Linked DNA regions of Homo sapiens. The protein of the gene in region 1 interacts with the protein of each later gene in a pairwise test. Each region holds a gene or a part of one and is shown on either strand. Other genes may lie near its edges.

Region 1 (3,500 bases):
CTGCGAGGAGGGGACCTTTCTTCTGCCGCTTGTCTGAGAGAGGTTTCTGAAGCAGAATGTGAGGTTGAGGTCTGCACATAAAGAGCTGCTGTGACTGGGACATATCTTTAGATGTTACAGCTAGCTTTAATTTGCTGGCCTCTACCAGTGTTTACTTAAGCTTATTAACATGCTATGTTTAGAGGCTCACTTAGAACCCCTTTTGTACTCTGGGTCTCTTAAAGCATTGCTGTGATTGGTCTTTATCTTTGGCATTTCCTAGTAGCTTGTCTGTTGTGTATCCAGAACACAGTTACTCTTGTTACAGTCCCATCACATTTTAAGAAGGTGCAGGAGAGAGACAACAAAATGAGGATGTGACTTTTTTTTTTTTTTTTTTTTTTTGAGATGGAGTCTCGCTCTGTCACCCAGGCTGGGGTGCAATGGCGTGATCTTGGCTCACTGCAACTTCCACCTCCTAAGTTCAAGCGATTCTCCCACCCCAGCCTCCCGAGTAGCTGGGATTACAGGCACCCACCATCACGTCTGGCTAATTTTTGTATTTTTGTAGGGCAGAGTTTCACCATGTTGGCCAGGCTGGTCTTGAACTCCTGACCTCAGGTGATCCACCCACCTCGGTCTCCCAAAGTGCTGGGATTACAGGTGTGAGCCACTGTCCCTGGCCGACAATGTGACTCTTGAGACTAAAAGAACAGTTGGGTATGCCATTTCTGGAGAGGACTCCTACATGTGAAAGGCACAGATACTGTTAAGTCCCCAGAAACTTGGATAGTCTGGCATTGGAGTTCACAGAATTGTTTGGGGAAATGAGCTTCCTTGGTAGGTAATTAGAGATTTAAAATGAAATTTGGGCTTCACATTCTAGTAGTGTCATATTGAGTATGAGTGTTGACATTTCGCTTAGAAATGTGGAAGAGTGACTGACTGTTCAGTTAACAAACATTTTAAATGTTTAAGAAAGGGAGGAGGATCATTAGCTCAAGTCAGAAAAATCAAATCTGAAATATTTAGTTTCTCTTTTATTGTATTGAATAATGGGACAAAAATGACATATCATTAACTGAGATTTTTATGCATTTTGAGGTATTAGGAGATAGGAGTACAAAAAAAAACCCATCAGAATTCAGGTAGGTAGCTCTTAATTTTCAGTGTTTTGTATCCTCAGTCATATTTTGCCGTAACTGTGAATATGCCCTCTTACATCTTAAAAAAAAAAAAAAAAGATGGAGATAGATGTAGATACCTTGTCACCATAGTATTCCAAGGTTTTCATACTTTTTTTTTTTTCAGGTACCAGAGAATTTATGGTGGCCATATCAGAGGTCTTCCAGCCTAGATTACTTCTGGTCACTGATCTGTTATTGTCTCTAGCATAATAATAGAAATGTCAGGCCGTTCCTTCCAATAGCTTGTGTTTTCATTAGTCTCAACCTCATCTGTGAATGAGTGATTTGGGGGAAGAATGTGAGAGTCAACAAGCATGTATCCTGACAGGATCAGAAAAGAACAGGTTTGGGTAACTTTTTGGTTTGACTTGTACTCTGAGATCAGAGGAGGGTAAATGAACACTGGAAATGTGTGAACTCCAAGCTCCCTCTCCCACCTAACATGAAGAGATAGTTCAAGGAGGCCTACATAACTGCTGAGCTCTTTCAGTTTTTTTTTTTTTTTTTTTTTTTTGCTGGGGAATCGGGGGTTGTTGGGCTGGACAGGGTCTCCCTCTGTTGCCCAGGCTGGAGTGCAGTGGCACAATCATAGCTCACTGCAGCCTCTACCTCCTGGGCTCCAGCAGTCCTCTTGCCTCAGTCTTCCAAGTAGCTGGGACTAGAGGCACATGCCACTGGGCCCAGCCTATTTGCAAAACTTTTGTAGAGACAGAATCTCAATATGTTGCCCAGGCTGGTCTCAAACTCCTCATCTCTAACAGCCCTCCCGGCTTGGTCTCCTAAAGTGCTAGGATTACAGGCATGACCCACTGCACCTTGACTGCTTTGTGGTTTTTAACAATCTGTGAATCTACATAGTCTATGAATTAGGAATATTGTTTTGGAGCAGTCCACAAGCTGAGTCCCAAGTAGAGATCTCTGTTGGGATCTGCTTTTTGCAGTCACTAGTCTCAGTGAACCATACTGTATTTCTAGGAGGTTATTATAGAATTTGTTATTTCACAAATGAAATGTAAAAATTTTATTTTTGTCCGCCCCCCCAAAAAAATAAATAAATAAAAATGACCCAAAAAAGTGATTAAGGATATACAGCAATTCTGAGTTAGAAGGTTAGGATTTGAGTAAAAAATAATAGAAACAAGAAATGGAAGATGGGGAGCCCATTTAAGTAGAGATATTTGTTCTGTTAAAAAAAATCTACACATCTGATTTCTTTTCTTTTTTTTTTTTTTGAGACGGAGTCTCGCTCTGTCGCCCAGGCTGGAGTACAGTGGCGCGATCTCGGCTCACTGCAAGCTCCACCTCCCGGGTTCACGCCAGTCTCCTGCCTCAGCCTCCCGAGTAGCTGGGACTACAGGCGCCCGCCACCATGCCCACCTAATTTTTTGTATTTTTAGTAGAGACCGGGTTTCACCGTTTTAGCCAGGATGGTCTCAATCTCCTGACCTCGTGATCCGCCCGCCTCGGTCTCCCAAAGTGCTGGGATTACAGGCGTGAGCCACCGCGCCCGGCTACACATCAGATTTCTAATGAAATCTGTTGAGTGAATGTTCCTGATGATAGTCTTTGCAGGGTTCTTGTCTTTGTGAGCCGAGAAGACTCCCAAGGATGCCTTGGTTTATTTACTTCCCCTCTCTTTACCTTTAGTTTTTATCTGCCCTAATTGTATGGTTGAGTGCTTTCTCTCCACTGTTAGCAGCTAGCTGATTTCATTTCTGGTTTTTTTGCAAGCAACAACTGTCACTGCATGATATAGGTTGGGTTAATTTTTCCTTTGAATTTACCGGTGACTTGGGCTCATTAACCAGGCGGTCACAAGTGCTGTACAGTAACAGGCTTTCTGTCCCTGTAGAATGGGATGCTTTGTTTTGAAGTGCCCTTGAGACAATCTTAATCTGTAATAACAAAGGAACCTAGAAATCATGTCTTTGAAAATAGACATGTGGTCATTATTTATGATTATAGCAAACTTTAATTTACTGGTACTAATAGTGAGGCTCCATGGTATAGTTAATCACAAAAGTTTATGTTTGGTTCTGGAATTTCTCACGATGTTTCTGGACACCAATTGCTATTCCAGGGATATTTTATTTAGACTGATCATTTAATTGGATTTTAGTCCCTGACAGAGTGGAGGGACAGTTCACAAAAGGGGAAAAAAAAATCAATGGATATATAAAATTTCACTCTCACAAATAAGAAAAGAATTCAAATATATGTAAATGGAAATTATTTACTAATTTCTATCTTAAGTTTTTTTTTTGGCGGGGGACAGGATCTCACTGTCGCCCAGGCTCGAGAGCAGTGGTGTGATCATGGCTTATTGCAACCTCA
Region 2 (3,500 bases), on another chromosome or scaffold:
CATGTTGGCCAGGATGGTCTCAATCTCTTGACCTCATGATCTGCCCACCTTGGCCTCCCAAAGTGCTGAGATTACAGGCATGAGCCACCGCACCTGGACTGTCTTAGATTCTTTAAAGAGATTTGTAACAGTTCCTTCAAAAAGAATTGCATGGTTTCTTATTATTACCTCGAACTTTTGAAGTTATGAATTAACTTAATATGGGGGCTACATGGACTAAGACACAGATGGTTTCCTATTTGTTGACTTACATCCTGCTGATAAGTTTTTGTCTAAGGGCAAGAGTAAGCGAGAAGTAATATTTTTGAGCATCTACTTATGTCATCGTATTTATTCCTTGCCATCCTTTGAGGTACCTATTATCCACAGTTTTATAGGTAGAGAAAGCAGGGCTCAGAACTGTGTAGTAATTTCCCAAAGTTCACAGCTTTGTAGGCTGGCAGATAGTGCTAAGCACTGGTCTGCATGCTGGGACAGGGAGAAGCAGCAGTTGTTGTAGTCATAGTAACAGTGATGATAGCAGTAGCTACCAGGCAGTGAGTCCTCCATGTGTGAGGACCCTTCCTATATGTCATATGGTTTAATCCCTGTGACAGCCCTGCAAAGGCCATGATCCTCATTTTACAGAACAGGAAGCAGCCTCTAAGAGATTAATTATTTGTCCAGTCACACAGCTTTTCAGCAAAGAGCTGATATTCAACCCAATTCCATCTGATCCTAACTTTCTGCTCTAAAGTCAACTTGTTCGTCAGGATTAGCGATAGTTCCCTGATCACAAGAACAAAGTCTGAGGCATGGTAGAAGTAATCTTTTTTTTCCTAATGTTGAATATACAGCTGCCTCCTGACATTCCTATTGAGCCAGAATACAGAATGTTTATTTAATTTTTACTCCTTGTGAGCCTTGGTGGGGAGGAAAGAAACATCAGATATTTCTGCAAGCTTATAAATTGTTGTAGGGTACTTTCTCTTCCAACTGCTCCTGTTAAGACCCACCCAAGGCCGGGCACGGTGGCTCACGCCTATAATCCCAGGACTTTGGGAGGCTGAGGTGGGTGGATCACGAGGTCAGGAGATCGAGACCATTCTGGCTAACACGGTGAAATCCCGTCTCTACTAAAAATACAAAAAATTAGCCGGGCATGGTAGCGGGCACCTGTAGTCCCAGCTACTCGGGAGCCTGAGGCAGGAGAATGGCGTGAACCGGGGAGGCGGAGCTTGCAGTGAGCCGAGATCGCACCACTGCACTCCAACCTGGGCGACAGAGGAAGACTCCGTCTCAAAAAAAAAAAAAAAAAAAAAGACCCACCCAAGAACCCAAACTTAGCTAAGAAAATATCTGAGCACATCCAGAATTAAATATCACAAGTTGTTGGACCAACACCTTCACCATATCTACAGATGAGTCCCTGACACTCACATGGAGCTGATTGACTCTGATTTGACTCGTAATTCTAACAGTTTCTGTTTTCAGCTTAGTCTACGGCAACAAAATAATAGTACAGGACCCACTGCAGATTGGTGTAGTAATACAAGAGATGTGACCAGAGATGAGAAGAAAGAGACCCAAAAAATGATCAGAAGCAGAAATGGGAGCCCAGAAGTGCAGCTGACCAGAAGCATTTCAGTGTCAGATCACACGCAGCCTCCTCTGTAATGAGATCACAGCACGTCTCATCAGTTACTGGTTTTCATTATGGTGACACTGAACACTCATGAAAAGTTAGCATTGAAATATGTTGGTATCTCCAATTTAGAAAGGTAGTGATGATGGGTACAGTGTTTTTACGGGGAAAAAAAGCCAAAAAATGCATTCATGTTTGTCTACTCTTAAAACCCAGCTGTCCAAGAACGATTCCCCAAGGCCCTGTCCATCATTTCTCTTTCTATCCTTGAAGCGCAGTGTCTGACACATAGGATGTGCTCATTGATGCCAGATGATGAAACTTGAATGGCTGGTTTCCTAGGGTTCTGGATAACTCTGTTTTACCGTGGATCCTGGATGTATTCCAGGATGACTTTAAGAAGGCGAGAAGGGGTAAGACCCCTGAGAGCTCAGTGTTTATTCTGTTTTTACACATGGTTAGATGAGATGATACCCACCCTCCTTCAAAAAAAAAAAAAAAAAGCCATTCAATACATGGTAGTTACTCTTATCATTACCATCATCTTTGTCAACACTGACCACGGTTGCTCACTGGGGAAGATGTGAAAAAGAAGTTGGGATCTTCCGCTCCTGGGACACATTTGAAACCCAATAGCTGGAAGCAGGCTGAAGCTATGTAACCAGCTCTCATCCACATGGGCAAGGGTCCCAGGAGTTCTCTGTGGGCTTACAAGCTACCCACCCCCTTGACAACTCCAGTTATTAAAGGTTGAGCCCTGAATAAATAAGTGCCGCTCTCCATAAGAGACAGCCGCCTTTCAGAGAGTTCCAAGCAGCTGGAAGATACTCACGCATGGAGGGTTCTAGGCAGACAGAGGCCGGGCCCCGTGGGCTGCTCCGAGCACCTGGTCGGCCTTCCCAGCACAGGGCTCATTGTTTTACAGGTCACAGCCATTTTGAAAAGGCAGACTCACTGACCTGTTTAATGAGTGCAGTTTCTGCACGAAAGCCCATATCCCTCTCCCAGGCAGCCCCAGAACTTTGCTGGGGAAGGGGGCCAAATCTCTTCTCAGTGCCTGAGGGATTTCTGGCCTTAACTGCTGGTGGAATTAGCAGGAGTTATCTATAAATCCCTGAGGCATCCATCAGCCGACTGAGCGAGGCTGCCTTTTTAAAGAAGTTCACTGACCTCTTGTTAACTTAACTCCTTGTTAGGAAATATCTAATCAGCTGTGAGCTAACACGTCAGGGCCCAGGGGTCTGCAGAAGCCGGGCTCACTGTGGGCTGGGTTTCCAGCTGTGTGCAGTCTGGTGTCTGAGCTGTGGTGTTTTCCTCTTTTCAGCTATCTTTCAGATCATTCAGAGCATAAGGATGGGCATGTGAGAAAGCCAGGGATTTGACACCACCTCCCTCCCACTGGAGGCGGGAGGACAACGGAAGCGGTCAGCCAGTTTCTGCGGGAAACAAGCAGGCCACACGGAATAGAAAAAAACGCTCCCCCACTTGTTCCCTGATCACTTCATCGTGGATGTCAGACCAAATTGCCTTCTCACAGGACATCTTGGTGCATCCGCGTTCTCAAGCGGAAAGGACATTTTGCTTTTCTGTTGGCAGGATTAGTAGCCACGCGGGTCGTCCGCAGCAGTGCTGTTTTTTTGGTTTTTCCCTTGGTTTCACTAATGCGTGCATGTGGCCCTCTGAACGATCACTGGTTTACTTTCTATGGATACAATCTCTCCTCCATTGAGAATTGATTTTACAAATAAATGTCTTCGTTCAACCTTATACCATGTGTGGGTTACAGTGAGAAAACTAAAGTGAAGAAAACAGCAGAATAGCTCAAGGAAAGTTGGGAGGTGGGGAGATTTGGTTATGCAGTTGGAGGAGGCGCAGG
Region 3 (3,500 bases), on another chromosome or scaffold:
ATAGATCTTTTTGGATTAAATCATTGATTGCCAGAGCTGAAGTTTCCTAGGCAAGTGATTTTCATTTAAAAAGAAGTAAAATCTTACTTGGAACTCAAATATATAAAACTGATCATAAAAATAGAGCAGCTCTGATGTGATTGAAGAGACTAAAATAAGTTACCTGCTTGGCTTTTGGCTTTTTGTTGACATCCTCTCCTCGAAGCCTCAGGTACCTGCTGTCCCAACATTATTCACATAGCACTTCCTTTCTTTTCCAGAGAATTTAGATTTGGATGATAAATTATATGTACCCACCCAATCTGTGAAGAGATCTAGTGTTCTAAAGAACATGGTTTAAAAATTAATGAATGTAATATTTTCTCCCTTTTGCAAATGAGGAACATGAATTCTTCCCTAAATATCAGAATTTTAAAACTAAATTTTCTAAAAATTAGAATTTTATAATTCCTGCTCATAACAGCAATGTTATAAAGAGAGGACTTCAGGAGTTAAGTCAGGAGACCTGAGTCCAAGCCCTTGCTCAATCATTTACTAGTTATTTGGTATTGGGTAGATCCCTGTAACATTTAGATCCTCAGTTTACCTACCAGATCCCCTCTACATTGCCCACAATGCCTAGTATCTTATCCAACAAGAGTTTCCTGAATTTAATTCCTACTCTCTGTCCCATATCCTATCATGTTTAGGCTATTAACTTCACTTTATGAATATCATTCTTGACTTCTGGGTCTGTGATTATTATTATGAAAAATTTATAGACATGGACTTTTTATCTGTATATTTCTTCATGGTCCCAGATTCTATATCCAGTTGCCTATTGAAAATCTCTAAGAGGATTTCTGGTGAGGTAACTCAAACCACGTGTCTGCAACAAAATCCTCCATCCCTGTATCTTACCATTTCCAATCTGTACCTCTCCTAGGCTTTCTCAACTCAATAATAATATCGCTATCTACCCAGTTGCTCAGGCCAAAAACCTGGGTGTCATTTTTTTCCTTCTCATTTCTTCATCCCTAAATTCAATCACACCAACACATTCTTTGGCTTGAACCCCCTGCCCCCCAAATCCCTAATTTAACCAGTTCCGATGGTCTCTACTGCTACACTGTCCAAGCCACCGTCGTATCTTGCCTGGACTCCTGAAGTGAACTCCAAACTCATCTTGTCTTCCTGCTTCCATTCTTAGCCCTAAGAGCATTCTATTTTTGACTCCACACAGTAGCTAGGATTATTATTATTTGTAAAATAACAGCATACAACATTGAACTCCTTCCTAAAATCACATCAATCCAAAGCCCTTAATATGGCCCTGAAGACTCTTCATGCCTAGTGCTTCAACCTCTTTCCTTTGATCACTAGACTTCTGTCTAAAAGGCGTTTTCTGTGTCCCTTGAAGAAGCTAAATTCATGCCTCCCTTACAGCTTTTGCAGGTGCTGTGTTTTCTGCTTGGAATTTCTTCTTCACGTAACTAGCTCTTTTTCATTGTATGGGTCTCAGTTGAAGTTTTACCTCCTCAGAAAGACTTGCCCTGAATACAGTATGTGAAGTAACTCTAACTTTCATTACTTTTTATCCCTTTACCACATTCTATTTTCCTTCTAGAATTTATCACCTTCAAAATTTTTATGAATATTTTTTGTCTGCAATCACGAGAATGTGAGCTCCATGACAGCGGGGTTTTTTTGCCTGTCTGTTCAACTTAAAATGTCCCTGGAACTTGTTGTAGGCGCTTCATCAATATTTCTTAAGTAATTTCAGATGCCCTTTCATCTATTAGTGACAAAGAGAGTCAGTTTACAGTACTAATACCGATGCAAATTATTTGTATACTAACAAAATATTAAAGCAGCTAAAACTAAAATGGTACTTGGTAGACTTATGTGGATGATAAACAAACTGAAAAAATTACATATTATTTCTGACATTAAGAAGCAAAATTGGGCCTGAGGAAAGTTAGTCTTAATGGACTTAAGCACAGTTATTAACTGAATTAACTTAATAGAGATAAATTTAACCATTTATGTTTAAGAAGTAAGAATAACTGCAGCCCCAGGAGAGTAGTCAACTTCTGTGAAGACTGGCTGGGGAGATGAGTATCTCTCAACTTAATCTACAGTAACTAACTTTGTGCCTTCTTTTTTTCTTCTTCAGTTGTCTGGGTTCATGTCTAAGCTTGTTCCAGCTATCCAGAATGCCCACAAGAATTCAACTGGATCTGGAAGAGGAAAGAAACTGATGGTGTTAACTGAACCCATTTTGATTGAGACCTACACAGGGCTGATGTCATTCATTGGAAACCGCAACAAACTTGGCTATTCCCTTGCCCGTGGGAGTATTGGTTTTTGAGAGTCTTTTTGGTACCATAAGCATATCATCCACAGATATGTCACTTTGAAAATTCCAGTTTGACCCACGCTATTTTTGGACTGAAACAATTAATTATTTTTAAATGACGCTTTATGATTTAGAAATTTAGTATTTCCGAAAATTTAAAAGCTTGATTGGACTGATAGATACACACTTTAGACCTCATACAAGAATAATCAAATTTTCTTAAAACTAGAAAATAAATGCTGCTGAGCCTATCAAATACTGTTATCAAATGAGTGCCTGATCATCAACTCAGGAAAGAAGACTCTAAGTCCTGTTGCTTCAGCTCTCTAAATGTAGGCTTTTTTTTTTTTTTTTTTTTAGGTCTTGGTCTTCAGCCCTCTTATCCTGATTTATTCTCTCATTGGGGTCTCACTGTCTCTAGTATTTTAGCTACCACTTGATAAGGATGACTTCCAAATTTATATTCCCATTCCCAATATTTATTCCAAGACTCAGTTTTGCATTTCTGACTGCTAATCATCTATATATCAGTGTCCCAGTGGCCTCTTAATTGAGCATTATCAAAATCCTGTGGTATTTATATGGTCCCAGTTATCCATCCCTGAAGTCTGTCAATTTTGATTTCTCTAAATTCCTTGCCATGACATCCTATATATGATCACATCTCTATACGGCTTAGCATTGTATTCCGATGCCCAGATGTCAAACTTGAAGCTCATTCTCTTATCAAAATTGTTCATGTATTCCTCCTTTCCATTCTTATAGCTGTATTATTAGATCAGGTTTTTAATTCTGCTCAACCAATTATTACCACAGCCTGTTAAATGGAATCCCTACTCCAAGGCTGACTGTTTCAATCTATCCTACACTTGGTTTCTAGCTCATTTACTTATACCATCTTTTGTTCAAATATATATTTTTTAATAACAGACCTTTTTCTTCTAAAGAAATCTTTTGTAGAAGCAGCATATACGAAGCAGATAAAAGTAGGTTCAATGCGGTTGGAGTGAAGATGAGAATGCCACAGGCATCTTTCTTTCTAGGCCTCAGAGGTGCTGCATATGGAATGTCCATGGATCGCAGAGGGTTTTGAAGACCATGTTTTCAAAAACACTGTCTTAACACTCTATTGTCATTGCTCTTTTCCCTCTTATTTCCTCTT
Region 4 (3,500 bases), on another chromosome or scaffold:
GGCCCGCCCCGGCAGGAGCGACCTGCCTCTAGAGCCAGTCACATGGGTGTTCATCACTTACTTGGCAGGCTTTCCAAAGGCCATGTTGTCCTCCTGTTGAGGGACAAAAGCAGAGGTCAGTGAGGAACTTACATTTGGGCCAGATGACAAACCTGGGTAGGTGGCAGAAGTGCAGTGACTTAGAAGAGGGTATGTCAGGGGTGGGGGGGCCAGAAGTGGGGCCTGGGCCCTGCCCTGGGGCTGGCATGGCATCTAAAGAGCTAGCAGCTGTTCTGCAGGAAGAAGGCAGTGTGGCACAAGTGCACAGAGCACTGCATCAGAGACCAAAGATCTGGGGCTCCAGCTGCCACTGTCCCTTGGTGTGGCACCCAGGAATTCTCTTGCCCTCTCTGGGCCTCATTTTCTCCAAGTTCTCTGGTCAGTCTTCTCTGATCTCTGAGGACCAGCAGGAGGTTTCCATCATGGTCTGGCCTCCTGACTCAACAGTGGTGGCCCACATGGAGACCATCTCCTCGCCCAGCAGTCTGACTGCATTCATAGCAGGGCGGGGGCGCTGGGCCCAGAGGGACTTCCTGTGAGGGAGACACTGCAGTGAAGTCCTAGACTCATCACATTATTCCTGGGGTACAGGACTTACACAGAGACAGACTCTGGGTTCAGATCAGGGAGACCCTGCTGACAGACCTGGTCAATGATTAATCACCATAAAAATATATGATAAAGTAATGGATGTGAAAGTATTTTTAAGTACAAAGTGACAGACCTTTGTCGTGTTAAGATGATCATGACAACTATTAATATAAACAGGTTGGTGCCACCACACCCCTTCAGTCCAGCCTCTGACACCTGGAGACAGGATGATGCATGCTCCTCTGCTGCTAGCCCACTGGACCAGTCTTGGTCACAGCCCCAGGGAACAGACCTGAGAACACAGCTGCTTCATTCTAAAGCCCCACCCCCTCTTCTCCATGGCCACACCCAGGGAACCGAATCAGCCTCCCGTGTCCCCCCACCTTGACTCCCACCTTCTGAAGGTCCAGAGATGTGGTTCCTGGATGGTCTGACTCTCCACTCTTGCCTCTAATCCCTACCCATGTCTCGGTACCCCAGGGGTGGGGGCAAAGGGCTGGGTCAGTTACTTAAGAATCCTTCTGGCCACACTGCCCTCCCGGCCTGTCCTGGAGGCAAGAGAAGGGGGAAAGGGGTCAAACACTGGTGAGGGGCAGAGGGCCAGGGCCAGGACTGCGGGTTATCTACGTTCTCCTGGGTCTGGGGAGACGAAGCCTGCCTGCAGGCAAGACAGGACAGCCTTCCACTTAAACCTTGGAACCCCCCGGGTGGGCAGAATGGGGACTCACTGAGACAAAGTAGGGGCCCGCGAAGTCCCGAATGACTCCTGTGGATGTGCAGATGCCCATGTGGCCGATGATGGGGAAAAACCACCTGTGAGGAAAAGGACGGGGAAGGGACAGAGCTTAGGGGATCTTTCAGCCAGTTAGACGGACGCTGGGGACCCTTCATACAGTACAGAAGCATGTGAATATTACGTTTCATTGACAGGTGGCCATTAGGGTGGTCCAGAAGGCTGGGGAAGCACAGACAAGGGTAACTGCAAACCGACAGCACAATGGGATACCTCAGCATCCCGCCAGGATGGCTGTAACTCAAACGACAGCAACACCAATGCAGGTGAGGGCAAGGGACAACCAGAGCTCTCATTCACTGCTGGTGGGAGGGATAAACTGTTTCTACCTTTTTTTTTTTTTCAAATGGAGTCTCGCTCTGTCGCCCAGGCTGGAGTGCAGTGGCACAATATTGGCTCACTGCAACCTCCGCCTCCCGAGTTCAAGCAATTCTCCTGCCTCAGCCTCCTGAGTAGCTGGGACTACAGGTGTGCACCACCACGCCTGGGTAATTTTTGTATTTTTAGTAGAGATGGGGTTTCACCATGTTGGCCAGGATGGTCTCGATCTCTTGACCTCGTGATCCACGTGCCTTGGCCTCCCAAAGTGCTGGGATTACAGGCATAAGCCACTGCACCCGGCCTACCATTTTGTTTTTGAGATGGAGTCTCGCTCTCTTGCCCTGGCTGAAGTGCGGTGGCACAATCTCAGCTCACTGCAACCTCCGCCTCCTGGGTTTAAGCAATTCTCCTGCCTCAGCCTCCCGAGTAGCTGGGACTACAGGAGTGCACCACCATGCCTGGCTAATTTTTGTATTTTTAGTAGACATGAGGTTTCATCACGTTGGCCAGGCTGGTCTCGAACTCCTGACCTCAAGTCATCTGCCTGCCTCGGCCTCCCAAAGTGCTGGAATTACAGGCGTGAGCCACCGTACCCGGCCTGTTTCTACCATTCTGGAAAACAGTTTGGCACTATACTAAATGCCTCAGCAGTTTCACTTTTGGAACCTTCTTTGCCCTCACCCCTGGGAAATAACATTTGCCAAAACTCATTGAACTGTACTCTTAAAATGTGTACATTTTATTATATGTAAACTATAATTCAATAAAATTGATAAAAACAACTAGAAAGAATCCAAATGTTCAACAACAGTACGATGAATAAGTGTGGTATAGTTATACATTGAAATAGTCCATAACAATGAAAAACAGTGTCACTTCTGCTACACACAACACAGGCTTTCACAGACATAAGGGTGAATGAAGGAAATCTTACACAGAGTACGTAACATAGCACTCTGTTTACGTGAAGTCCAAGAAAAGGCAAGACTGATCTATGGCTAGAGGTCCACAGCGGGGTGGAATCTGTGGTAGAACTGACTGGGAGGGCACAAGGGGGTCCTCTGGGTCTTAGCATTGCTTTCTAGCCCCCGTCTGGGTGGCGGTTACATGAGTGTGTGATATGCAAAAATTCTTCCTGCTGTATACTTGAGATTCGCACACCGTTTGGTACATAAGTTATACCTCAATAAGAAAGTTAAAAAAAAAAAAAAAGGTGGGCGGTCATGACACCAGTATGGGTGGGGGAGTTCAGGAAAGGCTTCCCTGAGGAAATAACAAAGAAACAGAATGTGCAAGGGTAGAAATTGGAACAGAAGCATGGTGTATGCCAGGAAATAAAAGTTCCTTTTTTATAAACCATGGGCATTAAAAAACAACAATAAATCTCAGATGCACCCCAATATGTCACACATAGGAACCCCAGACCTGTCTGTGTTCTGAGAACCATGGCCCTACAGGACCTGGGTGCTGGAGAGACTGATCCAGTTTAAGGAGAACTCACAGGGCCAGTGGCCGAGTCCTGGCCTCAATGCTGCCTGGGCACGAGCATAAAGCACCTGGCTAGGGGTGCAGGCCAAGCCTCCAGAGACGCAGTTTAAAAAAGCAGTTACAGGGGGCTGGGGTGGAGCCAGTAAAGACTTCACAGAGGAGGTGACTTTTAACCTTGACCTGTGAAAGGACACAACATCAACAGGCAGAAAACAACACTGCAGAGCAAGAAAGTGGTACATGTGCCTGGAAGAACGAAAGGGGGAGA

The links.
Region 2: the proteins of RETREG3 (region 1) and SERP2 interact in binary tests that used the Homo sapiens proteins (3 or more experiments, as listed by UniProt).
Region 3: the proteins of RETREG3 (region 1) and TPRG1 interact in binary tests that used the Homo sapiens proteins (3 or more experiments, as listed by UniProt).
Region 4: the proteins of RETREG3 (region 1) and TMEM222 interact in binary tests that used the Homo sapiens proteins (3 or more experiments, as listed by UniProt).

What each region holds. Positions count from the first base shown.
Region 1 is NC_000017.11:42,602,875-42,606,374, reverse strand, and holds part of RETREG3 (reticulophagy regulator 3), read left to right. Parts: intron 1-3,500. UniProt on the Homo sapiens protein: Endoplasmic reticulum (ER)-anchored autophagy regulator which exists in an inactive state under basal conditions but is activated following cellular stress.
Region 2 is NC_000013.11:44,394,324-44,397,823, forward strand, and holds the end of SERP2 (stress-associated endoplasmic reticulum protein 2), read left to right. Parts: intron 1-2,948; coding exon 2,949-2,989; 3' UTR 2,990-3,391; downstream 3,392-3,500. UniProt on the Homo sapiens protein: Interacts with target proteins during their translocation into the lumen of the endoplasmic reticulum. Protects unfolded target proteins against degradation during ER stress. May facilitate glycosylation of target proteins after termination of ER stress.
Region 3 is NC_000003.12:189,318,471-189,321,970, forward strand, and holds part of TPRG1 (tumor protein p63-regulated gene 1 protein), read left to right. Parts: intron 1-2,155; coding exon 2,156-2,350; 3' UTR 2,351-3,500.
Region 4 is NC_000001.11:27,328,663-27,332,162, reverse strand, and holds part of TMEM222 (transmembrane protein 222), read right to left. Parts: intron 1,449-3,500; exon of another isoform or gene 1,444-1,448; coding exon 1,359-1,443; intron 1,179-1,358; exon of another isoform or gene 1,026-1,178; intron 923-1,025; exon of another isoform or gene 94-922; coding exon 62-93; intron 1-61.